7 linked regions of the Homo sapiens genome follow. The protein of the gene in region 3 purifies or fractionates together with the protein of the main gene of each other region. This does not show direct contact. Each region holds a gene or a part of one and is shown on either strand. Other genes may lie near its edges.

Region 1 (3,500 bases), on a different chromosome or scaffold from region 3:
CACAGAAAAACTGGGCTAGGAAAAGTCTGGCACTGTCCCAGGGGCATCAAAGCTGTGCTAGTTTTTGAACCATTTAAAGATATTGGTTACAAAATAGATATTGTATTATATGGACTTTTTAAAAAAAAAAATACCTAAACAAAAGATTATCAAAAACTAATATATTCTTTCCATTGTATATGAAGAACAGAGCATTTGCATTTACTTATATACCTATTTTATTCTACATTTATCAGAATTCCTTTCTTTCCATTAAATTCTAGCATGCTATTCTATGATATTATAAACTACAAATAATGTTCTAATTTATTCTTACCTTAACTACACAAAGAACTCCTTCATTGGTTTTGGCATCTGTTACAATTTTAAAATTGCCATTTTCATTGCCCTTTAAAATGGTATAATTAGCTCTCCAGTTAGCAGTATTCACTAAGTCCTTATCCTCAACAGTAACTCGTAAGATTTCCACATCAACTGTATTTTCTTCCACTGATGTCACATACTAAAATAATAAAAGCAAACAAAAAATTTCGTTAGTAACTCTCACAAAAATTGAACACGATGTGAAGTAAATCCTACTCTTCTAATTTCCAAAGTACTATGTTTACATGATTTGAAACCCTAGCACTATACAACTTTTAATGTCACTGGGGCACTTCATTTGAAATCATGAGGGGTGGATGGGGATGTGCATTTTTTTCTTTTCCTTCACTGCAACCTCTGCCTTCCACGTTCAGGCGATTCTCCTGCCTCAGCTTCCCGAGTAGATGGGATTACAGGTGCCTGTCACCATGCCCGGCTAATTTTTGTATTTTCTGTAGAGACGGGATTTCACCATGTTGGCCAGGCTGTTCTCAAACTCCTGACCTCAGGTGATCCGCCCGCCTCGGCCTCCCAAAGTGCTGAGATTACAGGCGTGAGCCACTGCGCCAGGCCAGAGATGTGCATATTAAACAATTAAAACTGGTCTATACATTTTTCTTTAATTAATATCATACACTTACAGAAGTACGAGTAAATGTTGGCAAGTGGTCATTTACATCATCAATGTTAATGATACAAGTTGAAGTTGTCTGTAGACCAAAATACTGACCATCCATGTCTTGTACTTTTATTTTCAACTGGTACTTGTCAATTAACTGAAAACAAAAAAAGAATTTAATTATTGGGGGAAAGCACCAACATTATAATTGAAATCTTACTTTACACTCCATAATTTTTTTGCACTAAGAATTTAAGAAGTGCATTATTACATTTCACAGCATTCGTGTATTAGAAGAATTTTCTCTCACTAGTAATTTTTCTTTTCTTTTCTTTCTTTTTCTTTTCTGAGACGAAGTCTCGCTCTGTTGCCCAGGCTGGAGTGCAGTGGTGTGATCTTGGCTCACTGCAACCTCTGCCTCCCGGGTTCAAGCGAGGCAGGAGAATCACACTAGGAATTTTTAATCAATTTATGAAAATTGAATAGTTTCTCAAATTTATAGTGCTATTAACTTACAGAATATAGATTCAATTGGTTTTGTCTTTATTCAACAGAAAAAGAAGAGCTATTTGCCACAAGTGCATTTAAAATTGCCTGGTAATTAATCAAAACCTTTATCTCCTAGCCAAAGTACATTCTTATGTTCAAAAAAATAGACAGCAATGACTCTTAAAATAGTCTTTTAACAAAACAATAAAATGAAATTTCTTCCTGCAAAAAATATAGATTTTAAGGGTTTATGTTACATTTAAGAGATCATCTAAACTGACATGAAGATAAAGGTCTGGGGCTATGTAGGTTTTTTTCTTTCTGTGGAAAATAGAATCTGGCTCTTAAGGCTTTCAATTTATCAGATATTGTTGAAAACTCATCACTACCTTAAAAAATATTTTTAAACATCTGAAGCATTTAAATATTTTAAAGTGTTTCTCCTTATAACTTTCATTTATCATAAGTGATTGAGATATGGGAGAATTAAAAACAATACAGTAATAATGCTTTCCGGACTGAGCATTAGGAGACTTGGGTTCTATTTCCAACTCCAAAAATAAGAGACACAATCTTGGGCAATTGGAAAATTCACTTTGTCTAGGTTTCTTCTTCTATAAGATGGTGATGCTTACCTTTCCTACCTAATTTATCTCTTTTCATAAGACAAAATAGCATGTTAAAATCTATCCTCATCTTCTACCTAGAATGTTCACCCTTCTCTTACAAAGATTCTTCCCTTAATTCCATCATCTCTGAAACTTTCTTTTCCTTAGGCATTATCTAAAATAAAACTAAAGTTTCTCTTGATCTTCCTGCTTTTAACACACATAATTTTCCAGATTTACTCCTCCCTCATAACCAATCACATGTGTAGACTTGAAAAATAATGGCCTTATTTCAACTGAAAAATTTTAAAACATCATGCTACTGTACTTTCAAGAAGGAATACATATTTTGTTTGTAGTGAACTAAAATTTATTGGAAATAATTAACTGGCTAATGAAACAAGGAAATGAAGTTTGATACCCTAAGTATTAACTTATGCTATCTTCAGATGGAAGAGAAATTCTGATGTTTAAAGGGACTAAAAGGTTGTAGGCAACTGAAGAAAACCGGAATCCTGAGGTCAAAAAGTTACTAGAGAGCACCACTGGATAAACACCTTCACTGGACAAGTGTTTTCAACTGATTATTTCAGAAGAATCTATTCAAAGAAAAGCACTTCTGTGATTGTTTGATTTAGGAGCTGAACAAGCTGTTGAGTTTTTGCTTTTTTTTTTTTTCCATAGAATGCTATTTTCACATAGACATCTATGGCTATGCAGACTATAGTTTTATGAAAGTATTTTGTAAAACATAAAGTTAATCTGTCACTTCAGGGAAAACAACTATTTGTTGCCAATGATAAATTGGAGATTTCAAACAAAAATGAGAAGCTTGGAAAACCTTTATCAACCAATGTGATATCAATGGAAGTAAAGAGGTGATCTTTTTGATATTATTTAATGCAATGTGTCAATATTTGGAAGCTCTGCATTACTTGGTGAACCAATATTTTCCAAATGACCAATGCACAATATAGAATGATGTACTGGTAAAATGGTCACTCAAAGTGTAAGATAGAGCAATGGATTTTAACGTAATAAAGTACAAAAGGTCATTGTTGAGGATTCAGAGTCCACATTACCAAAAACATTTAGGAAACAAGCTACTCCTTATCAAGTATTCATGTAGTATCAAGGAATAATATCCACAGTGATCTGTAATTATCATCAAAATACTACTCTCTTTTCTAATTTTATATCATGTCAGATTGCCTTTATATATGCTTCAGCTAAAACTACATATTGTAACAGACTAAATGCAGAAGGAGATATGAGAATCCACCTGTCTTAAGCAAAATACTAAAAACATTTGGAAAAATGCATAACAATGTCATTCTTCCCACTAAATTGTACTGTTTTGGAAAATGTACTTATTTTGTAAGTACAAAAAGAAGAAAAAGTGTAACAATTTTTACTGTTAT
Region 2 (3,500 bases), on a different chromosome or scaffold from region 3:
CCTGACTAAGTAGATGAAGGACTGGGCCTAGGAATTTGCATTTGCAACAAGCATTTGTGATTCTGTCACAGGTGGTCCTAGGGCCACAGTTGAGGAAACAACTGGGCGCATGTGTGGGGAGGGCTCCCCACTGAGGGGGCAGAAGAAGAGCTGGCAGGCACTCGGCATCCACAGAGCAAGGCGCTCCTTGCACCAATGGAGAGAACTTCAGAGTGCCGCCTCTCAGCACATGCCTGAGATCTCCAGCCCCACGGCTTAAGGGAGGCTGCAGAAGGGCCTTGGAGCCTCCGGGATTGGTCCTGCTGAGGCTGTGACCATGTGGCATTTAGGATAAAATGCAGAGTGTGGACTCTATCATCATCACAGCTTCTCACTGAGTGCTGATGATGTGCTGAGCAATCACATCTCATTTAGTCCTCACAGCACTGCTCTGAAGGAACTGCTTGTTATCCCCATTTTACAGATAGGAAAACTGAGGCTCAGAGACTTCCAAGGTTACAGAGATAGAAAGTGGCAGGACAGGAATCAGGCCCAGCCAGAGGTTACCATTCTGTGGTACAACCTCCCTTTCTGTTGGAAGGGTTCCTTTAGGTTCTCATCTCCTCCAGGATAAAACACTCTGCTTAAAAATAATAGAGGCCCCGGCATGGTGGCTCACACCTGTAATCCCAGCATTTTGGGAGGCTAAGGCAGGCAGATCGCCTGAGGTCAGGAGTTTGAGACCAGCCTGGCCAACATGGTGAAACCCCATCTCTACTAAAAATACAAAAATTAGCCTGGCATGGTGGTGGGTGCCTGTAATCCCAGCTACTCGGGAGGCTGAGGCAGGAGAATTGCTTGAACCTGGGAGGCGGAGGTTGCAGTGAGCCGAGTGAGATCTCGCCACTGCACTCCAGCCTGGGCAACAGAACAAGACTCCATCTCAAAAAAAAAAAAAAAAAAAAAAGAGGAAACTTTAGCAGGCTTGTTGGAAGGTGAGTGGGAAGATTTTCCCAATCCTTGTTTCGGTGGCATGAATACTCCTTTCCAGCTTAAAGCAGATCTAACCCTCTCAAAGTCCACCTTCCTCAGCTCCTCTGTTCTGTTCTTTCATCTTTGGTCCTGCTCTCTCCTAATCTTTCTCCTCTCTTCCCCTTTTAATTTTTCTCCTTTTGTCTTCAAACTCCAAAGTTACAGACTCATTGTGTCCCTCCATCTTCCCTGTATCCCCCTTCGCTAATAGAAGAATTTTCTCTTGCCATTCGATCATGATACAGGCTATCTGAAAAAATGAGAATTAGGTTCCTAGCAAGATAGATGACCTACCATTTTCCAGAGGACACTGTGGAATCCTGTTTGCCCGAAGGTTCCAAATATAACCCATGTTCCACTCAAGGCACACTTGATGATCTTTGAAAGGGCGTTCAAAAGGCGGGATGGTCTGCAGGAGGGTATAATTCTTTGCTACAGCATGGAGCAAGTTTTCCTCCCATTTAACATTCCAGTCTCTGCCACTGTATTTGTGAGTAATCCAGGCGCGTACTATCACTGCAGATACAGAGATGGAATGTCTGATGAAATAATCATCTCTGTAAACCATAATGCTTGGAAATTTCACATGTACTATTTGTGTCCTGCTGGTGTGAAGATGTTTCTCATTCTTCCACCTTTTTTTGTACACGGGAATGCTACTTCTGAACTCAGATGAAACAACTGCTTCCAAATTGACAACACAAGGCTGAGAGCATAAATACTCAACCGAGACTTCAGAAACGTTGCGAACGTTTCCTTCAAAGACAGTAAAATAAATAAAGTCTTTGTAAGCCACGCTCTGCTCAGCTTTGGGTATCACTGATGTCGTCAGGGAAGTCTGCCTACCCAAAGATGGTACAACATTCTGAAAAAAAGAAAAAGAAAGTAAGAAATACAGAAAGTTTAAAAATCCTCATCATAACAGATACTTGAATCATTATTTTCCTGGGATAAAAAAATATCAATCTACATAAAGCAATGAATGAATGCGGGAGATAAAAGATGTCAAAACCACTACTGAAGAATTGGGGAAAAACCAACACACAAATACAAAGGAAGATGAGGCCACATTAAACTCTCTCCCCAGACACAGTAACATCTGCTGATCAGAATGTGACTGTCACATCTACATGGCAATAATTCCAGAGTTGGTTTTCAAAGGCAGAAGTTGGTTCACAACAAATCCAGTAGCAAGGGAACCTGCCTTAGAATAAAACAGAGACAATGCAGCTTCAGACATTTTCAAACCATTGTCCTGACTTTAAATGGTGGGTCAGACACTACCAAATCAAAGGGTGGCAGAAAAGTGAAAAGTGCACCCTCGAGGGAACATAACAGGGATGCCAACCTGGCCCCTTTTTCTCCCATAAGTTTGAAGCCAGGGCAAGCCTGCATGATATATGGACAGGCAAGAGGCTTCTATTGCTCCTGGTCACACACAAGTAAGCTCAGACGATGGGCTGTGTTGTCTGATTCTTTCACCACAGACAATGCTACATGCACCAAGAAGGATTTTAGCTGAATGTTTATTTATCTGGTCATGAAATCAATGCAAGGTTTTGAGCATGAGGTGCTGATATGTGAGTGCTAAGAGCTCTCCTAAATATGACTTTGTGATTCAAGTATCCAAAACACAATAGAAAAAGGTCACTTTGGACCACTGCATATCCATTAGGGTGGCTATTATTAAACACACACAACGCATACACACAGAGAGAAAATAACAAGTGTTGGTGAAGATGTGGAGAAACTGGAACCCTTATGCACTCTTAATGAGAATGTAAAATGGTGTGGCTACTATGGAAAATAGTATAGCAGTTCCTCAAATAAATTAGACACAGAATTATCATATGATCAGACTGGGCGTGGTGGCTCATGCCTTCAATCCCATAACTTTGGGAGGCCCAGGTGGGTGGATCACTTGAGGTCAGGAGTTCAAGACCAGCCTGGTCAACATGGTGAAACCCTGTCTTTACTAATAATACAAAAATCAGTTGGGCAAGGTGGTGCACACCTGTAATTCCAGCTCCTTGGGAGGCTGAGGCAGGAGAATCACTTGAACCCGGGAGGTGGAGGTTGCAGTGAGCCAAGATCACACCACTGCACTCCACCCTGGGCAACAGAGTGAGACTCCATCTCAAAAAAGAATTATGGTATGATCAGACCCAGCAATTCCACTTCTGGATATACACCCCAAAAATTTAAAGCAAGGACTTGAAGAGATGTTTGTACACCCGTGTTCATAACAGCATTACTCACGCTAGCCAAAAGCAACCCCAAGGGTCCATCCATGGATGAATGGGTAGAAAAAATGTGGTATATACATGGGATGGAATATTATTCAGCCCATAAAAGGGAATGAAATTCTGATGTATGCTGTAAAATGGATGAACTTTGAGGAGATGAGGCTAAGGAAAACAAGCTAGACACAAGAGAACAGACATTATATCATCCGCCTACATGAAGCACCTAGAGTAGTCAAACTCACA
Region 3 (4,129 bases):
ACAGGGCCCTCATTTTCAACATTTCCATTTCTTAGATTATCTATTTTTATTCATGTTTGGGCTATAATCCCTAAAATCCTAAAATTTTCAGCTTGCCCTCCCTCTATGCCTGAGGTCCACTTCCTGGCATTTCCAGCCTGGGCCTTAGCTTTTTCTCACCCCAGTAGAGGACGATGTCCTGGCCCTCTAGACTGCTGTGCTTCACCCGACAGGACAGGTCAGCTGCCTCCCCAGCGGCCACCTCCAGGGTTGCGCGGAGATACCATGTCCCATCAGCACTGGGCAAGATGTCCCCTCGCTGAGTGCCCTGCTGCTCCTGCTCACCCCGCATCCACATCACCCACACGGGCTTTGGGTAGAATCCTGAGACATGGCACACAAGCTGCAGATGGCCAGGGCCAGGACTGGGGCCATGGGACAGCCAGGCCTCGGGCTTCACTGCAAAGGACAGAAAAGATATTCAAATACAGACTTGGAGTTTCATATCTCCACAACAGTTTAGAAGTTTAGATAGACACATTGTTCCCATTTCTCTTTTTTTTTTTTTTGAGACAGGGTCTCACTCTGTCACTATGCTGCAATGCAGTGGCATAATTATAAATTATAGCTCACTGTAACCTCAAACTGTTAGGCTCAAGCGATCCTCCTGCCTCAGCCTCTTAAGTAACTGGGACTACAGGTGTGTACCACCATGACTGGCTAACTTATTTTTATTTTTTAGAGACACTGGTCTCACTCTGTTGCTCAGGCTGGTCTGGGACTCCTGCCCTTAAGAAGTCCTCCAGCCTCAGCTTCCCAAAGTACTGGGATTACAGATGTGAGGCACTGCACCCAGCCTTTCCCACTTCTGGGTGGCTCTTCCTTATTCTAAATTGGAAGGAGGTGGTGGAAGGGTATGATTTTCAAATCAAAACTTCTTGGAGGGAGAGTGCAGGACTGACCTTGCCGCTGGAGATGTGCCTTTCCTGCATCAAGAAGACCCAAGATGAAACGTGGGCAGGTGTCACTGAGAAGATTGTGTGTTATGTCATTTTCATGCTGATTCTGATTGAGCACTTTGCAGAAATGCTTGGCCATATTCCCAGCCACTGGATATGGCAACCATGAATTGTTCTGGAAGCTCACAAAGTCTGATCCTTGATAAGCTAACTGCAAGAAGCTTCCTGAGACCTTTCCAGAGTGCAGCTCACAGCCTCCTGTCACCTGTATCTCAAAAGGATCTGGGGTTATGAAATAGAGGAAAGAGGGAGAAAAAAATATAAAATGAAATGAGTAGAAGCAAAGATTATAGAAGCAGAAGGGGGAAGTGTGCAGGGTTTGACATAATGGAATAAAATTTGGTTTGGTCAGGGATTCAGAGAAAGAGGAATTGGTGGGAGCTGTAGGTGGAGGAAAAGATTAATAACATGAGGAAGAGGGCAAACTGGTCAAAGAAGGTGATGTGAATGCTGTGGGTGAGCAAGGACCTGGTGTAAGAGAACTGGGATTATAACAACTTAGGTTGAATTAAATGCAATGGGTTACAATTGAGTATATATAGAGAGACTGCTGAAGAGAATGAATGAGAAAGTGAGAAAGCTGAAGGTATCTGGTTGTAGGGCAGGCAGAAGGGTGGTCCTGGGATACCTGTAAGAAAAGATAATAATGCACAACCCTGCAATCAATGAGAGAGGAGTTCATAAGTAGCAGAAGTGTTTGGAGAATTAAGGTCTGGATGATAGCCCTTGCCCAAAAGTATGCAATTGCAGTTTTATGGTGGAAAGAATAGAATAAGATACAGAAGAGAGTCAGGCTGTTTCCTAAAGGAATAAGAAACATTGAGACAACCCCTCTCTCCCACCTCACCACTCTCCATGGAGAAAACTGAACTCACATTCAAACTGCAATTCATGGGCGTATCTACGAATTCCCTCAAATGACCGAATGGTGCGTATACGGAATAATGTTTCCAGTTCCTTCCACTCCTCATTGCTGAAGTTTCCCCTGGACCAGGGGCACAGGAAAACGATGGTGCTGGAATTGCTGTCCCAGGTATGAGTCTGCAAATCACTCAGCCAACCTGAGACCAGATTTTGTTTCCAGGAATGGTTGTAAAAGGATGCGATCCAGGTGACATGGAAGGAGAGAGGCTCCTTGAGCCCTGCGACAAAAGAACAGATAGAATGGGGAGAAAGACATTGAGAAAGAGGATGGAGAGAGAAAGGTGCCAGAGTGCGGGAACTCAGAATCTGGAGAAAAGGGGATCCATCATGATCTTAGCAGACATTCACTTGCCACACAGTCCCATGCCTTATCAACCACCTTCATAAGAGCTCAGGGACCTGGAGTCATGGATAGTCAGAATGGAACCAGCCTGGCACTCTCACTTTCCAGGTATATGCTAGGGAAACCACACACACACACACACACACACACACACACACACACACACACACACAGAGAGAGAGAGAGAGACCTTCACCCACCACCCAACTGGGCAGTTGTCAGAGTTCTTACCGTCTGCATTGCCATCACCTGGGAGAACAGCTAACAATGGAAGTAGCAAAAACAGCATATCATTTGCAGATGTTATTTCCTTCTCTCAGAAAAATTGGTCTTTGATTTCTGTTCCAAACAAACCTACCCCACGATATCTCTATTCTGACTTCTTTCTGCAGCCAACAGACAAACCTCCCCTGACTGCAACAAAGAAAATCCACTCCTTCAAAAACCCTGAGATGCCTACTCAGTCTCTCATTTCCCTCTGGTTCTGACTCTCCTCTCTGTTCCAGCTTCTCTCCTTGTCACCAACCTCCAACTTATTCACCTTCCCCTAATTCAACTGCTATGGAACAAGTCTGATGTGGCATTGAAAAGCCACTTAACCACTAAGGACATTTTTTTCTCAATCATACAATAAGAGCATAAAGTGAAATGGCTCCCAGTGTGCTGCCCAATGCTCCCATGTCCCTGCTCTTTTTGATCACTCTGTCCTTTTCAATATTTTCCCATGTATTCTCTTCCCCTGTCTCTTCAGCCCCTTACTACATTCACATTTCTGATTTAACATTGATTTATTTGCTTTTTCAGAGTCTCCTACGACTGCCCTGTGCGACAGTACAAACTAACACCTTTTCTCCATTATTCTTAGAGAAGAGCCAGTAACCATCACAAAAAAAAAAAAAAAAAAAAAAAAAAAAAAAAAAAAAAAAACCACAGGAACACTAAAACATATAAAGAAAATTTCCTCTGTTTGATTTTCATTGATATACATTCACTCACCCAACAGTCTCTCTTAGCACCTGCCTGGAGTCAAGCATCTTGGTACACTTAAGAATATGCAGTGGTTGACAACACAATCACTTTACTGAAGGAGCTTTTTCTCTACTTAGGGAGAAAAACACGCCATGAAATATAAATCTTGGTGTACTGAGTTTTATTATACTGTATACACTCTCTGGATAAAAACAAGGCCTGCTTGAAATAATATTTTCTAAAATGGGGGCTCCTAACTAATGTACGCCAGCCCAGAATTTTGACTTCAATGTTTGACTTGGAGTGTTAGTTCCATACAGTTATCATACTGTATCCCCACCTAACAGAGTATCTCACAAGTGGTAGGTGCTTAGTGAATATTTGTCAAATGAATGAATGAATTCAGTCTATGCATCCATTTTTTAATTATGGAGGTGATATTCAACATGAAACTTTTTAAAGATATCATAAAAGTTACTTGTAACCCTATGTAGTGAGATGAGAATCTCATACAGTTTTATTTAGGATAAAAGTACAAGTTACTGGCATGAGATTTACATAAAAGATCCTGCTATAAATGTCCTATTACTTATAAGAAACTAGTCAGAACTTGTGAGCAGTGAAGTTAATGGAGTATTCCAAAGTCTTTATCCCAGGATCCCTTTTTATTAGTCCTATTTGGATGTTTCAGGGTTGTTTTGTTATAAATGAGTCTTTGCCGGACACATTTACATTCCTCTTTTACGCTGCTTGTAACTGTTGAAGGGCTTCTAAATATATGTTTGTGCTTTGTAGATATCATCCATATAAATGTGTCTGGGCTATTTACTATTTTTTGGTTTTCAAAAAAAAAGTATCTGAAGCTAATTTAGGGGGAAAAAATTTTTTTTCTTGA
Region 4 (3,500 bases), on a different chromosome or scaffold from region 3:
TTGTAAATGAAACGAGGAACAGAGAATCTGAGAGCTTTACTTTGTAGGGTGCCAAATGTGATTCTTTCTTACCTACATCTATTTGTCTTGGGATTTTTCTCTCTCTCTCTTCCTCAAGAGCCTTTTAGTCCTCCCCACACATTGCCTGCTTCTTTAGGGCTTGTTGCTCCTAATCTGAGGGGCCTCCAGGGTCAAAGAAGGTCCTCCCAGCATGGGGTCAGCACCTCTCTGAGTCCCACCACAGACTCCTGACTTCGTAACAGTGCTGTCTGTCTGCTGTAGCAAATCGTTAGAGCAGTCAGGAAGGATTCGGAGTCATGTTTGTGGAAGGAAGAGATTATTACAGTACCTGGAGGAAGGAGGAGGGGGGAAAGCCCAGATTTCAGTTCTTGCCCTTGAGCTGCAAATTCTCAAGGACTCTCCTCTAAATCTCCTGGAATCACTGTTAGAAATCCACATTCCAATGGAGAGCAGTGTAGGGTTATCAGATATATGAGGCCTTTCCTCCAACTCAGCTCTGACACTTTGAAAAAAAACTTCAGTATAAAACTGCAGAGTCAATCTCCATTTTAATAGTTTTGTTTTTCTTGTTTAGCACAAAAAAATTAGATCTCTCCAGCTGGCGAATCTAAAACTTCTCTTCCATATGTGCATAAGCACACACATCTGTATATGTTCACATGTACAGGCACACACTGTAGATGCCTCAGGACTGTAACCCCTCTCGAGTGGCCAGAAGTACCAGCCACGACCTACTTCAGAACCAACCGTGCCTTCTCTGAAGTTAGGCTGCTATAACTAAACAGCAGGTAGAGTTAGATGCTGCTTCCTTTGACACTCCCTGCCTTTAAAAGACTATGTCACCTCAAAGAATTTCTAAGGAGTTGTTTTCTTCTCTCCTTCCAGAGGGCCAGTTGAGAGTGGATGCCAATATATCCGTGCATCACCCTGGGGAGCCTTTGGGCGTTCGAACGGAAGTGAAGAATCTCAACAGCATCAGGTTCCTGGCCAAAGCCATAGGTGAATGCCAGCTGCCGCTCCTAGTGTCCTTCTTCCTATTGTTTCTCTCTTGCTGGGTAACAAACAACCCAGAAACTTAGTGGCTTACACAAGAACTACTTTCGTTTTCACTGGTCCGTTCTGTTGGTCCTGTGTCGGCTCACTCATGTGGCTGTGGGAAACCGGCAGGCCAGCTGAAGCAGAGGGTCCATGGTAGTCGCTCTCATACCTTGGGGCCTTGATGCTGATGTCTGCTGGGCTTCTCCATCCATGTGATCTTTCTTCATGCACTTGCCTAGCCTTGGCTTTCTTATGAGGCAGTGGGAGCATTTCGGGAGGATGAAGGCAGAAGTGAGTCCTAAGCTGTAGACCTCACACAGTGTCACTTCCAATGTGTTCTATTCAAAGTAGATTGAGGCCAGGCACAGTGCCTCATGCCTATAATCCCAGCACTTTGGGAAGCCAAGGTGGGTGGATTGCTTGAGGCCACGAGTTCAAGACCACCTGGGCAACATAGCAAGACCCCATCTCTATAAAAAATTAAAAATTTAGCCAGGCATGGTGGTGAGCACCTGTAGTCCCAGCTACTCAAGAGGCTGAGGTGGGAGGATCACTTGAGTCCAGGAGTTTGAGGTTGTAGTGAGCTGTGATCACGCCACTGCACTCTAGCCTGGGCGACAGAGCAAGACTCTGTCTCTAAGAAAAAAAAAGAAAATTACATTGAATTCAAAGCAGACTTGAGGGGAAATTAGACTCCACCTCTTTATCAGAGGATCCACAAAAGATCATGGCTGTGTTTTACCATTTACCACCTTCTTTCTGACCAGCTTGAGATTTACTAGGTCATGGTTGTTCATTTTAGATTGACCATGGCTTGACCTAAATGGTCATTATGTTTTCCTGCTTTTTATATTCTTTTTAACTGCTAGATTATGTGCCCATGCAGTGAAGTAGTAGTCTTTCTGGAGCACACACTGTGGGTATTTCTTTGATGATAAATGTATAATAACTAAAATAGTTTAGCAAGATAAATATCTGAGCAGTCCCGTAGATATAGGTAACTGTGAATTCAAGGGGAGGACCTCAGAGGACTAAAAAGATTTTTTAAAACCGAAGCTATCTAGAGAGGAAGAGGGAGGGATGGAGTTTGAAGTGCACCCCTTCAAGGGTGCACAGAGACCAAGACAACTGAATCTGTTGCCAAAGTTTTGCTGTAGCCAAAATGTTTAATAGAGCCCTGGTCTTGTCAAGAAAAGTATTAGAAACAGTACAGAAAAGATGATTCTAGTCTTGTATTAGACCTTATTGTCCTGAACCTGAAGTGAATCAACCACTCAATGAAGACAGTCTTCAGGAAAAAGGCATTAAAGTGGTCAAACGGATAGCTTATGGGAGCAGAGAGGGAAGGGATAGGCTCCTATATGAAGGCAGACTAAAGATGGTGAACTGTTCTGCATCCGGAAAGGGACATAGCCCATGTTCCCAAAGCCATGAAAGGTTTGAGTCAGGGAAAACCCTTATAAGCCAAGTTGGTGAGGAGGAAGCCTGGAACAAATGGAGGAAGTTCCACCTCCCCCTGTAGGTAGTGGGCTGGGACCCGTTATTTTAAGAGGTGGTGATGGTAACCTTAAAAAAGCAGCCCAATTTTAGGTAGAGTCATCCATGAGTTCTGAAGGAGACCCCTAACCTTCTCCTGTCCTATGAAGAACTCTTTGGAGGACCAGTCTGAGGGAGAAATCTCCCTGTGGTCTGACTCAGAGTGGAAGAGCCAAAGCTTTACTATGGGTTCAATTCTCCAAGCCTGTGATTTTTCACCACCTTTTTCTCCCTATGTCAGGCCATTTAGCCATCATCTCGTGTCAACCAAAGAGATCACTGGAGTTGGGGAGAGATGGGGAGCAAAAACTGACACGTTTTGCTGTTGCTGCCTCTTAGCAACTCAGATAAAAGGGTTTAGGTTTGGGCAAGGGAAGGTAGTACATGGTGGGAGGGAGAGTTAAGGTGGAGGCTCAAGATATTTTCATAAAGCAGTTTAGCAGGCTGGGCTTAGTGGCTCATGCCTGTAATCCCAGCACTTTGGGAGGCCAAGGCAGGAGGATTGTTTGAGACCAAGAGATTGAGACTAGGCTGGAAAACATAGTGAGACCCCCATCTCTCAAAAAAAGAAAAAAAAAGCAGCAACAGCTTAGCAATTGTGGTTGTGTTTTGATTCCCACAGCCTCCCTCATTTGATGCTGAGGCATGGGTCCTTGGATCTTAATCATTTGGGGTCGTGGGTCCCTCTGAAAAGATAATGTAAATGCTGGACCCTCTCTCCAAAACCTGCACATATGCACACAACCCACACTTTGTGTATAATTTTGGGGATACCAGAGCCTTTGAAGCCCATCCCAGACTCCCAGGGTAAGGGCCCTGGGTAGGCAGCAATCTCAGACCGAGATATTGGGCCCAGCCCCACTTCTGCCAAGTCATGTCATCTGCATGGGGTTGCTTAATCTCTC
Region 5 (3,500 bases), on a different chromosome or scaffold from region 3:
CTCTTTCACCTCCTCCTTAGCTTACTCAACATGAAGACAATGAAGATGAAGACCTTTATGATAATCCACTTCCACTTAATAAATAGCAAATACATTTTCTCTTTCTTATGATTTCTTATTATAATAACATTTTCTGTTCATTAGCTTACCTTATAGTAATATAACATACAAACTATGTGTTAATCAACTATTTATGTTATCAGTAAGGCTTCTTCAACAGTAGGCTACTAGTTTGGGAGGCGGAGGCGAGAGGATATCTTGAGCCCAGGAGTTTGAGACCAGCCTGGGCAGCATAGGGAGACACTGTCTCTACAAAAAATAAAAAAATTAGCTGGACATGGTGGTGTGCGCCTGTAGTCCCAAGCTCCTTGGGGAGGCTGAGGTGGGAGGATCACTTGAGCCTTGGAGTTCAAGGCTGCAGTAAGCCATGATTACACCACTGCATTCTAGACTGAAGTTACACTTGGATTTTCAACTGCAGGTGAGGGGTTGGTATCCCTAACCCATGTTGTTCAAAGGTCAGCTGTATATTCTATCTACAAGAAGCTCACTTTTGATCTAAGAACACATATGGGCTGAAAGTAAAAGAATGGAAAAGAGTCAATTCAAAGAGTGACCAAAGGAGAGCAGGGGTTGCTGTACCAATATCAGACAAAAGAGACTTTAAGTCAAAAACTGTCACAAGAGACAAAGAAGTACATTATATCATGATAAAATAGTCAATTCACCAGGAATATAAAACAATTATAAACATATACACAGTAAACATCAAAACCCCTAAATATATGAACCAGACACTGATAAAATTGAAGAGAAATAGACAACTATCAATAATAGTAATATTATTATACTAGGAGACTGAAATGTCCCACTTTGAATAATGGACAGAAAAATTAGACAGAAGATCAATATAGAAACAGAGGACTCAAACGACACTACAGAGCAAGAGTGTAACGGAGCGCCCTGCATGCAACGCCAGACGGTGGGCTACAAAACAGGCCTTAATGCATTTTAAACAATCCAAACCATACAAAGCATCTTTTCCAGTCACAATGGGGTGACACCAGAAATCAACAGCAGAAGGAAAACTGGATAATTCACAATTATGTGGAAATTCAGCACAGCCCAATCTTAAACAACTGAAGAGTCAAAGAAGAAGTCATAATGAAAATTAGAAAATACCTTGAGATAAGTGAAAACAAAAACACAACCTTCCAAAACTTATGGGATGCAGCAAAAACAGTGCCAATAGGGAAATGTACAGCTGTAAACACTTGCTTTAGAAAAGAAGAAAGGGCTCAAACAACCTAACTGTACACCTTAAGTAACTAGTAAAAGAACAAACTAAACATAAAGCTAGAAAAAGGAGGAGGAAAAAAGGAGGAGGAAAAAAGTAAAAAAGGAGGAGGAAAATAATAAAGATTACAGGAGGATAGAGAATAGAAAAATAGAGAAAATAAATGAAACTAAAATTTGATTCTTCAAAAATCAACAAAACTGTCAAACCTTTAGCTAGACTGACTAAGGAATAAAGAAAGAAGACTCAAATAGCTGTAATCTGGAATGAAAGAGGGGACATTACTACCTATTTTACAGAATAAAAATGATTATAAGAGAGTACTACGAACAACTGTATGCCTACAAACTGGATAACCTAGATGAAATGGACAAATTCTTGAACACAAAATCCACCAAGATAAATAATAAAGAATTTGGCAATGATTTCTTAGATACGACACCAAAAGCACAGGCAATAAAAGCAAAAATAAACAAATGGAATTACATTAACTAAATGGCTTCTACCCAGCAAAAGAAACAATCAACAAAATGAAAACACAACCTACAGAACAGGAGAAAACAGGTAAATAGTACATCTGCTCTGAAAGGGGTTAATAATTAGAATATATAAAGAACTCTTAAAAGTCAACCACAAAAATAGCAATCTGTTTAAAAAATAACAGATAAAAAGCATACAAAAAGAGGCTCAACATCATGAATCGTTAGCAAAATGCAAAATTGCAATGAGCTATCACATCATATATTAGGACAGCCACTATCAAACAAACAGAAAATAACAAGTATTAGTGAGGATGTGGAGAAACTGGAACCCTTGTGCGCTGCTGGTGGGAAAGTCAGATGGTGCAGCTGCCTTGGAAAACAGCATGGAGCTTCCTCCGAAAATCAAAGCTGGAACTACCATATGGTTCAGCAATCCCACTTCTAAAAGAGTTGAAATCAGGATCTTAAAGAGATATCTACACACTCACATTCACTGAAGCATTATTCACAACAGACAGGAGAGAAATAATCCAAACATCCATCGACAGATGGATACACAAAATTCAATTTAGAGCTGAACTGAATTTTGAATGAAATATTATTCAGTTTTAAAAAGGAAGTAAATTCTGACATGTGCTACAACATGGATGAGCCTTAAAGGCATTTCACTAAGTGAAATAAGCCAGTCACAAAAAGACAAATATTGTAGGATTCCACTTACATGAGTTACAGAGCTGTCAAATCACACAGACAGAGAGTAGAAGGGCAGGTGCTGAGGGCAGTGGGTGAGGAGGACTTATTGGGTAAAGAGTTTCAGTCAGGGAACATGAAAAAGTTCTGGAGACGGATGGTGATGGTGGTTGTGAATGTACTTAATGCCACAGAACTGTACATTTAAAAAGGATTATGTTGCTAATTTTTGTGTTATGTGTATTTTATGGCAACTTCTAAAATCCTTCAATGGCTAGGCCAGGCAGGTAACAGAAATAAGTTCTGTGGGTATCGGACTTAAGGCACTCTGTGGGGTGAGGGATGGGGATAAAGAGGGCAGGGCCCACCCACTGTGTCAAATACAAAACGTTTTACAATTCTGATCACACTCACGCCCTACTCTCTCAACGAAGGAGACAGATCATGCCTGACTAAGGTTCTTCCTGCTGAAATGTGCTGGCGGAGCTCCTCCCTTGTGCTGCTGGCTGCTCTGCCATTTCCACAGCACATGACATGTGCAGTTCTTCTAGGCCCCTCTGGCTCTGGTTAGATGACGCCTACTCCAGGAGTAGGGACCAGCCCCCATCCCAGAACCTCCAGCACCCAACACAAAACCAGATCCCAGCAGCTGCTCAGCCAGCACCTGTTGAAGGGGGTCTGCTGATGGCTCAGCAGTGTACTGAGGGGGAAAACGGGCAGTAGGAGGAAGATGCAGGCATCATAGATGCCACAGGACTGGGTGATGGCCATGAACTGAAACAGGTCATCTGGGAAGGGGCCATTTGGCAGGAGGCAGCAGTGATCAGGTTTTTGACATGCTGAGTTTGATATGCCAGCGGGACATCAGTGGGAAACAGGACAGGCCCTATGAGAGGTGACAGGTTTGGGGCTGGTCCAGAAATAGGACGGACCCTATGAGAGGTGACAGGCTTGGGGCTGGGAATGATGCACATTAAGGCAACGTCAGCTGAGACTGGGAGAAGAGACGTGGCACTAGGAATGTCCGTTCC
Region 6 (3,500 bases), on a different chromosome or scaffold from region 3:
TCTAGACCCCAGCCCCATCTCCTAACTACTGCCCCCATCTCCTTCTCCTCCACCCACTGCAAGGTCCAGCAGCCCTCCACGCTGCCATGTCCATGCCCACCAACTAACATTTTGAGTCCATGCCACCTCAGCTCCTTTCTGGGGGTGGGTAACTGTGGAAGGAAGGAGACTCTCTGGGTACCTCCACGATGAATTCATTGCTGGAGTAACGGCCATTCATTTCCGAGCAGGAAAGCCGGAACTTCCTGGTGTAGAGGGCAGCTCCGTGTCGCAGCCGATAACGAGCCTGCCTCAGGATCTCTTCATACACAGTGATGCTCTCCACCCCTGGAGATGAGGAAGCACCTCAGGGCAGGGGCCAGTGGAGGCAGGACCTGGGCAGGACCCTCTCTCCTGGACTCCCACCAGCTGACGCCACACAAGCTGTAGAGCAGGTCAGCCCCATCTCCGCAGAAGTGCGACCTGAGGTCGAAGGGAGGGATGCTCCCCTCCATCCCTGCCCACTCTGACTAACTAGGATGGAGAGATCAAGGCTCCATTTCCTGCTCTGTAGGTTCTGAGGAGGAATGGAAAGAAGGAGATAAAGACATCCTGAAAGACAGAAAGGGAGATGGCAAGCAGGAGGGAATATGAGAAAGAGGAAAATACAGAAGTCCTCAGTGAGCCCTGGAAAGGAGTGGAAATAGAAGGGAACTGATTATCTCCATCTTCTCCATTCTCCCTCCTGGCTTCCTTTGGAAACTACCAAATCATCACTCCCACTATTCACTAAGAGATGAGTACTTCTTGTAAAGCTCTGGTGTGCACGTGAGATGAGTGAGCTGAACAACAGAGATGACCGGTAACAAACAGACAGCTAGAGGGTTAGAAAGCTGGGCAGAGATGAGCCGAAGGAGGAGAGGAAGGTGAGAAGCCTGAATGGAAACAGGAGTGGGACCAGAAGTGGAGGTGAGCCAGGCTATGGAGAGGAGCAGGAAGACAGAAGCATTCGGAGCCTAAACCCAGCACACCTTCCCTAGGGACAATCAAAGCCAGAGGATCTTCCAGGCTAGGAAAATGCAAAACGGCACTTGTCCACATCCCTGGACCTGGAAGGAGGACCCTCTGGGCTTCCTAGGCCCTTACTTTTTGGGAGGGGCACACACACACAGAGGACAGGCCCTCAGGCCCCACTGACCAGCAATAGTGAGGTAGGCAGATGTGTTGGTGAGCTCCAGCCCCCGCTGCTGCAGAGAGGTTGTGTCCAGGAGCAGGCTTTCCCGCTCGGGATCCAGGTCATCCCCCACCAGAGAAATTTCACAGCCATCCAGGTTGTGCACAATCTCATCCGACATGCGTGTGTCTGTCACTGGGTTGGGGATAGTAGGGTCTGGGTCAGAGCCAAAGGGCCCACGGAGGTTCTGAGACCCAACCATGCCCTCATCACCACTCTCCCTCCCTTTCCAGGGCCAGGGAGAGGGAAGTCAGCATCATTTTCAAGAATATCATTATGCAACAATTCATTTCCACCCACGTGTTTTCCACTTGCTCTCCTTCTTAAAGGTAAGTTGTTCAGTCAAACAAACACAGGATGGAGTCGCTTTCTGCTTCCAGCCCCAGGAGTTCTCCCACACTCTGACTCCAGACACTGGCTGGTTCTCTGGATGGTGTTACTCCCCGAAGTCGTCCTTACCTGTGCCCTGCCAACTCTCATCCTTTTTGGCCTCCACCTGGTGAGAAATGGAGCAGGTGATTTGAAGATCAGGGAACAAAGGGACGCCGTTGGTTCCCTCAAAGTCCACAGCTGGGCGGGCAAAATGAGCAGTGCCACTCAGCAGGATCTGGGGGGCGTCAGGCTGAAGGACGACCACGTAGCCCTCCACTTCAGGGATGGAGACGCAGGACTCTTCGCTGAAGCACCTATGTAAGAAAGCAGGAGAAGCAGCATGTGACCCCAACACTTCCTCCCCGAAAACCCACATTCTGTTTCACTCCCCGCCCCAGCTACCTCTATCATAGAGCATCTCATGTCAGGAAGGGGCAGGGGAAGAAAGGGGGTCATGCCTCTGCATCCCAACCCCCACAGCAGTTGAAGGGGGACATATCCTTTCCTGGTAGGATGTCACCAAGGAAAATGTCGAGGACAGAAGGTCAGGTAATCCCAACCTGTGGGTGTGATCACACCATCAATGCCCTACCCCAGGATTATGGAGTACCTATAGATGCTATTTTAATGAAAAACAAAGCAAACTGAACTGACAAACAGGTATATATACACACACAGTTCTTTATCCAGCAGTTTAAAAGTACATGGACTCAGTATACTATCCGGCACATATGCGCCCAAAATTATTCAACAATAAAAGTAGAATGTGGACATCTATCAAAGGATGTCCTCCTCTTTGGTGTGTCTTTCATTCCCTTCAATATCGGGGAAACACACTTTGGTAGGTGAGATCATCTGACCACCTTGGACCTAGATCCACCGTCTCATGAAGCTTGAGGATCCAGGCATCAGGACAAGCTATCCTTAGAGGACTCTGTTGAGCCAGACCAACCAACAGCACAGCTGCTCAGCAGTGATGCTCCCAGGATCACATTTAGCCCCACCTTTACCAGTAATAACAACACCTCACAATCAATAGCCCTTGCCAGTTTATGAAGCATTTTCCCACATTTCTTTCTTTCTTTCTTTCTTTCTTTCTTTCTTTCTTTCTTTCTTTCTTTCTTTCTTTTTGATGGAGTTTCACTCTTGTTGCCCAGGCTAGGGTGCAATGGTGCGATCTTGGCTCACTGCAACCTCTGCCTCCTGGGTTCAAGCGATTCCTCTGTCTCAGCCTCCCAAGTAGCTGGGATTATAGGGCGCATGCCACCACACCCGGCTAATTTTTGTATTTTTAGTAGAGATGAGATTTCTTCATATTGGCCAGGCTGGTCTTGAACTCCTGACTTCAGGTGATCTGTCCGTCTCGGCCTCCCAAAGTGCTGGGATTACAGGCGTGAGCCACCGCACCTGGCCCATATTATTTCATTATATTATAACCTCATTTCTATGCTGTAAAATGCCTAAAGCTCAGGCTGGGCATGATGGCTCATGCCTGTAAATCCTGGCACTTTGGGAGGCTGAGGCGGGAGGATCCCTTGAGCTTAGGAGTTCGAGATCAGCCTGGGCAACATAGTGAAACCCCGTCTCTACAAAAAATACAAAAATTATCCAGGTGTGGTGGTAGATGCTTGTAGTCCCAGCTACTCAGGAGGCTGAGGTGGAAGGAACACTTGAGCCCAGGAGGCAGAGGTTGCAGTGAGCTGATGAGATCAGGCCACTGCACTCCAGCCTGGGCGACAGAGTGAGACCCTATCTCAAAAAAAAAAAGAAGAAAAGAAAAGAAAGAAAAAGAAAAAGAAACAATCAAGGCTTAAACCAGAGTCTAGGCTTAAATCATTCTTCTCCTTCCAGGTCCACTGATTTTTTTTTTTTTTTTTTTTTTTTTTTTTGGCAGAGTCTCTCTCTGTTGCCCAGG
Region 7 (4,101 bases), about 73 Mb from region 3:
GTGCTCCAGGCATTGTGCAAAGGCCTTGAGGAAGGAACCTGCCTGGTCTGAGAAACACCAGGATGCCAGCGGGACTGCCGGTAAAATAAAGAAGGGAAAGAGTAGCAGGAGACTCCATAGGGCCTTATAAGCCAGTTCAGGGATTCAGGCCTTAACTCTGAGATGGAAAATCATCAGAAAGTTTTGGTCAAAGAGATGATATGATCTAAATTACATTTTTAAAGGATCAGTCCCTGGCTACTGTGTGGAGAGAAGACTGAAGAGGTACAAGGATGATGTAGGGAGACCAGATAGGAGTTACAACAATAGTTCAGGTAGACATCATGGTGGCTTGGATGAGGATTGTAGCAGCAGGAGTAGTGAGAAGTAGTGGATTCTGAACATAATTTGAAGACAGAACAGGATTTGCTGAATACCTGAATATGGGATGTGAGAGGAAGAGTAGAAATAGGGATGACACCAAGGTTTCTTGGTCTTAGGAGTTAAAATGGTAAAGTTGCCATTAACTGTGATGGGTATATTTGAGCTGTCTATTGAAATCCAAGTGGAGAAGTCAAGTAGGTAGTTGGACATTTAAGTCTGGAGTTCAGGGAAGAGGTTCAGGGTAGAAATATAAATTTGGAAATTGTCAAAATTTTGACGGTATTTAAAGCCATGAGACAGAATGAGCTCTTCAAGGGAAAGCATGCAGACAGAAAGAGGCACGATGACTATGCGTTGGAATACACCATGATTAAGAGGTAAGGGAGGTGAAGCAAAAGCAGAAAGGAGATTGAGGGGTAACAGCCAGTGAAGTAAGAAGACAATAAGAAGAGCACTGAATCCTGGGAAGCGCACACAGCATTTCAAGGAGGAGGAAGTAATGAGGTAAAATGCTGCTGATCATTAACTGAGAATCGACTACTGGATTTAGCAAAGTGGAAGTGGTGATCTTAACAAGAACAGTTTCTAATGAAATGCGGGTGGGAATGTGACTAAAGCAGGTTCAAGAGAAACTAGGAAAGGAAATAGACAGTACAAACATATCTTAGAAGGTCTGCTTTCTAATTAAGAAGAAAAAGAGCAGAAGCTAAAGGGGGAAGTGGCAGCAAGTGTATTTTGTTGGTGGTGTTGGTTTTTTTTTTTTTTTTGATGGAAGAAGTAACAGTATGCATGCTGGTGGGAATGATCCAGCAGAAGGCAGAAGAAGACAGTACAGTAAAGAAATAACAAATGCTAGTATTGGGTTTATGTTGTTGCAAACCTGGTGGAAGTTCTCTTCTGTTTTCGCAGTGGCTCATGCCTGTAACCCCAGCACTTTGGGAGGCCGAGGTGGGTGGATCATTTGAGGTCAGTTCAAGACCAGCCTGGTCAACATGGTGAAACCTGGTCTCTACTAAAAATACAAAAATTAGCCCGGCGTGGTGGTGCAGGCCTGTAATCCCAGCTACTTGGGAGGCTGAGGCAGGAGAATTGCTTGAACTTGGGAGGCAGAGGTTTTAGTGAGCTGAGAGTGCCCCACTGCACTCCAGCCTGGGTGACAGAGGGAAACTCTATCTCAAAAAGAAAGAAAGAAAGAAAAAAAAAACCGAAATAAGATTGCCAGAAATCATGAAAGGCCTATATGAGGTTAATCGTCACAAATTTGTTTTTCCCCAGCAACGTACTGCTGCATGGGTACAGGGACAAGACCAGGCAATATGTTGGATTTAACAAGGGTTGACATTTTGACAAAAGAGGGAAAGTACTTGAGAGAGGAACAGGAAATTGAGGTTGTATGCATCAGAACGTTATGTGGTTGGCAGATTATACAGGTATACACTCAGTTTGTCAATTCTCTTGTATATTACTACAGACCATAATTTACTAAAGAGATTAGAAAATCACAAGATCTGAAATGGGACAAAAATGTACTGTCTATTCTGTGACAGGTTCTTTGCTAATTAATACCCCCAAAGAACCTCCAACTTTGTAGACTCTTTAAACATAAGATTATTCTCTCTGCCGTAAAATAAAGAAGGGAAAGAGTAGCAGGAGACTCCATAGGGCCTTATAAGCCAGTTCAGGGATTCGGGCCTTAACTCTGAGATGGAAAATCATCAGAAAGTTCAAGGTATTCTACGAACACCTTGAAATGAGAATTTTTACTTCCTCACTTTTGGGTTTTGTACCACCAACGTCTAGCATAGTGCTTTGTACACCGTAGACATCCAATAACGACAATTGATGAAACCTTTAAAAAGCATCGTAGGTGAATTCAACATGGGTTGTGGAGGGTAAGGATGGTACCATCTCTCTGTCAAAGGGAGAAGAGCTAGAAGGAAGTAGCTTTGGCATGAACCAAAATGTCAACCTAATTGATCTTTAAATTTCTCTGCAAAATGCCCACATCTACCTCTGTCTGTCGGTCCGGTCCGTTCGCCGGCTTAGGTCATATCACCCAAATATGCCCCAGTATGAGAAAAGCGCTGTCGGGTAGCTGAGTTCTCTATCAGTACAGATATTCATGCAAAGATCCCGGGCGGGAATGTCAACTACCGAACTAAAGACTGTATCAGAGGACCCTGCTCCTCGCGGTCCCCAAATCCCGCCGCGCCATTTTCTTCTCAAGGGCACCCCACACCTGACAACTCACACAGATGGTTATCTTCAGCACACCGTGGTTATAGTCTCGGTACAACTCTTTGGCCTCCTGGTTGCATTCGATGCACCTGTACTGGCAGGAGGCCGAGGCAGCAGTAGGAGTCGCTGCCACCCCATCCACGTTCCCCTTCCCCTGCTGCAGGCCGCTCCGCCCGCCGTTGCCCATTTCCACTCAACTGCAGTCCAGAACTTCCGATTCTGTGGAGGGTAAGACGTCAGACGCCAGACCGGAAGACTTGCGCCGCGCGGGCTTATTGGGATTCGTAGTCCCGGCACCGGCAAGGCGGCCCCGGGCTGGCCGAGCTGGGACTACCATTCCCAGCACACAATGCTTCTCCCCTTGTCCCGCCCCCTTGCCACGGTCCACCTGCCCGCCGTAGGTTAGAGGCGGGGAGGCCTGAGAGCCGGGCAAGGGCTGTCGCGCATGCGCCTTGAGGGAAGATGGCACCTGCCGGCTGCTGCTGCTGCTGCTGCTTCTGGGGCGGCGCTGTGGCCGCCGCGGGCGCCGCCCGGCGTGTCCTGCTGCTGCTGCTGCTGGGGGTCCTGTCCGCCGGGCTGCGGCCAGGCGCCCTGGCCACCGAGCACTACTCGCCGCTCTCCCTGCTCAAGCAGGAGCTGCAGCACCGGCAGCAGCAGGAGGCCCCGGCGGGCGGCGGCGGCTGCAGCCCGCAGTCCGGGGACTGGGGGGACCAGTACTCTGCCGAGTGCGGCGGTGAGTGGGCGGCGGCGGGCGTCCGAGTCGGCCGGGGCGGCGGGGCAGCGGGGCTGGGGTCCCGGGCCGGGGTACGGGTCGCCCGGGCCTCACGCCTCCGGCTGCGGCGCGCGATCCGCGGGAGCCGGCTCGGCCAGGGGTCCTGGCGGGCAGCTTCCCGCCGCTGCCACCCACGCCGCCGCGCGCCCTCCTGCAGCCGCCTTTGGGCAGGGCGGCGAGTCGAGAAATGAGCTGACAGCATGCTCCTGGGGCCAGGGCGGCCTCTCTCCTGAGTCTGAAGCAACTGTTGGAAGGGTGGCGGAGGAGATGGCAGGTGGCCCGGGGCAGCCCTGTTCCCGCCGCCGGCCTCCCGAGGATGCCGAAGGGGCGAGGGAGGGGCGGGCGGACGAGCAACCAGCCCGGCGGCTTGCGGAGCCCGCCCCCGGAGGGAGACGCCTGGCACATCTTAGGCCTGGAAATCAGGCTTCCTGACCTCCCGGGTTAATGTCTCGTATACAACAGTTCCTAAAAATTGGATCCCTGGAATGGAAAAAAAGAGCAAGCCCATCTTATCTGCTCGTTGACATCTTGCTTCCAGTTGTTTAAGATCAACCTGCGATCTGTCAGGTGTCTCCCAGAGGGAAAAAAGGCCCCTGCAGGCCTTGAGCCTGTGTGTCAGTGCCGTGTGTGTATTGGAGCTACGCCAGCTCATTCATTAAGAATGGGCGCTATTGGCTTCAGTTTAATAAATCATAGCAGATGCCTCTGGGACAAAATACGTGTGTACA

The links.
Region 1: the proteins of CD1A (region 3) and DSC2 purify together in Homo sapiens (affinity purification with mass spectrometry; one large-scale study listed by BioGRID and IntAct). This does not show direct contact.
Region 2: the proteins of CD1A (region 3) and SEL1L3 purify together in Homo sapiens (affinity purification with mass spectrometry; one large-scale study listed by BioGRID and IntAct). This does not show direct contact.
Region 4: the proteins of CD1A (region 3) and GATB purify together in Homo sapiens (affinity purification with mass spectrometry; one large-scale study listed by BioGRID and IntAct). This does not show direct contact.
Region 5: the proteins of CD1A (region 3) and ENTPD6 purify together in Homo sapiens (affinity purification with mass spectrometry; one large-scale study listed by BioGRID and IntAct). This does not show direct contact.
Region 6: the proteins of CD1A (region 3) and CLSTN3 purify together in Homo sapiens (affinity purification with mass spectrometry; one large-scale study listed by BioGRID and IntAct). This does not show direct contact.
Region 7: the proteins of CD1A (region 3) and ARV1 purify together in Homo sapiens (affinity purification with mass spectrometry; one large-scale study listed by BioGRID and IntAct). This does not show direct contact.

What each region holds. Positions count from the first base shown.
Region 1 is NC_000018.10:31,081,922-31,085,421, forward strand, and holds part of DSC2 (desmocollin-2 isoform Dsc2a preproprotein), read right to left. Parts: intron 1,140-3,500; coding exon 1,005-1,139; intron 503-1,004; coding exon 317-502; intron 1-316. UniProt on the Homo sapiens protein: A component of desmosome cell-cell junctions which are required for positive regulation of cellular adhesion.
Region 2 is NC_000004.12:25,845,989-25,849,488, forward strand, and holds part of SEL1L3 (protein sel-1 homolog 3), read right to left. Parts: intron 1,877-3,500; coding exon 1,306-1,876; intron 1-1,305.
Region 3 is NC_000001.11:158,253,095-158,257,223, reverse strand, and holds the start of CD1A (T-cell surface glycoprotein CD1a isoform 1 precursor), read right to left. Parts: upstream 2,801-4,129; 5' UTR 2,555-2,800; coding exon 2,497-2,554; intron 2,141-2,496; coding exon 1,874-2,140; intron 1,221-1,873; coding exon 942-1,220; intron 439-941; coding exon 160-438; intron 1-159. UniProt on the Homo sapiens protein: Antigen-presenting protein that binds self and non-self lipid and glycolipid antigens and presents them to T-cell receptors on natural killer T-cells.
Region 4 is NC_000004.12:151,705,508-151,709,007, reverse strand, and holds part of GATB (glutamyl-tRNA(Gln) amidotransferase subunit B, mitochondrial isoform 1 precursor), read left to right. Parts: intron 1-906; coding exon 907-1,020; intron 1,021-3,500. UniProt on the Homo sapiens protein: Allows the formation of correctly charged Gln-tRNA(Gln) through the transamidation of misacylated Glu-tRNA(Gln) in the mitochondria. The reaction takes place in the presence of glutamine and ATP through an activated gamma-phospho-Glu-tRNA(Gln).
Region 5 is NC_000020.11:25,198,712-25,202,211, reverse strand, and holds part of ENTPD6 (ectonucleoside triphosphate diphosphohydrolase 6), read right to left. Parts: intron 1-3,500. UniProt on the Homo sapiens protein: Catalyzes the hydrolysis of nucleoside triphosphates and diphosphates in a calcium- or magnesium-dependent manner.
Region 6 is NC_000012.12:7,147,371-7,150,870, reverse strand, and holds part of CLSTN3 (calsyntenin-3 precursor), read right to left. Parts: intron 1,900-3,500; coding exon 1,673-1,899; intron 1,349-1,672; coding exon 1,178-1,348; intron 328-1,177; coding exon 182-327; intron 1-181. UniProt on the Homo sapiens protein: Postsynaptic adhesion molecule that binds to presynaptic neurexins to mediate both excitatory and inhibitory synapse formation.
Region 7 is NC_000001.11:230,977,793-230,981,893, reverse strand, and holds the start of ARV1 (protein ARV1), read right to left. Parts: upstream 2,801-4,101; 5' UTR 2,789-2,800; coding exon 2,615-2,788; intron 1-2,614. Other genes in the region: TTC13 (tetratricopeptide repeat protein 13 isoform a precursor), read left to right, coding at 3,064-3,334. UniProt on the Homo sapiens protein: Plays a role as a mediator in the endoplasmic reticulum (ER) cholesterol and bile acid homeostasis. Participates in sterol transport out of the ER and distribution into plasma membranes.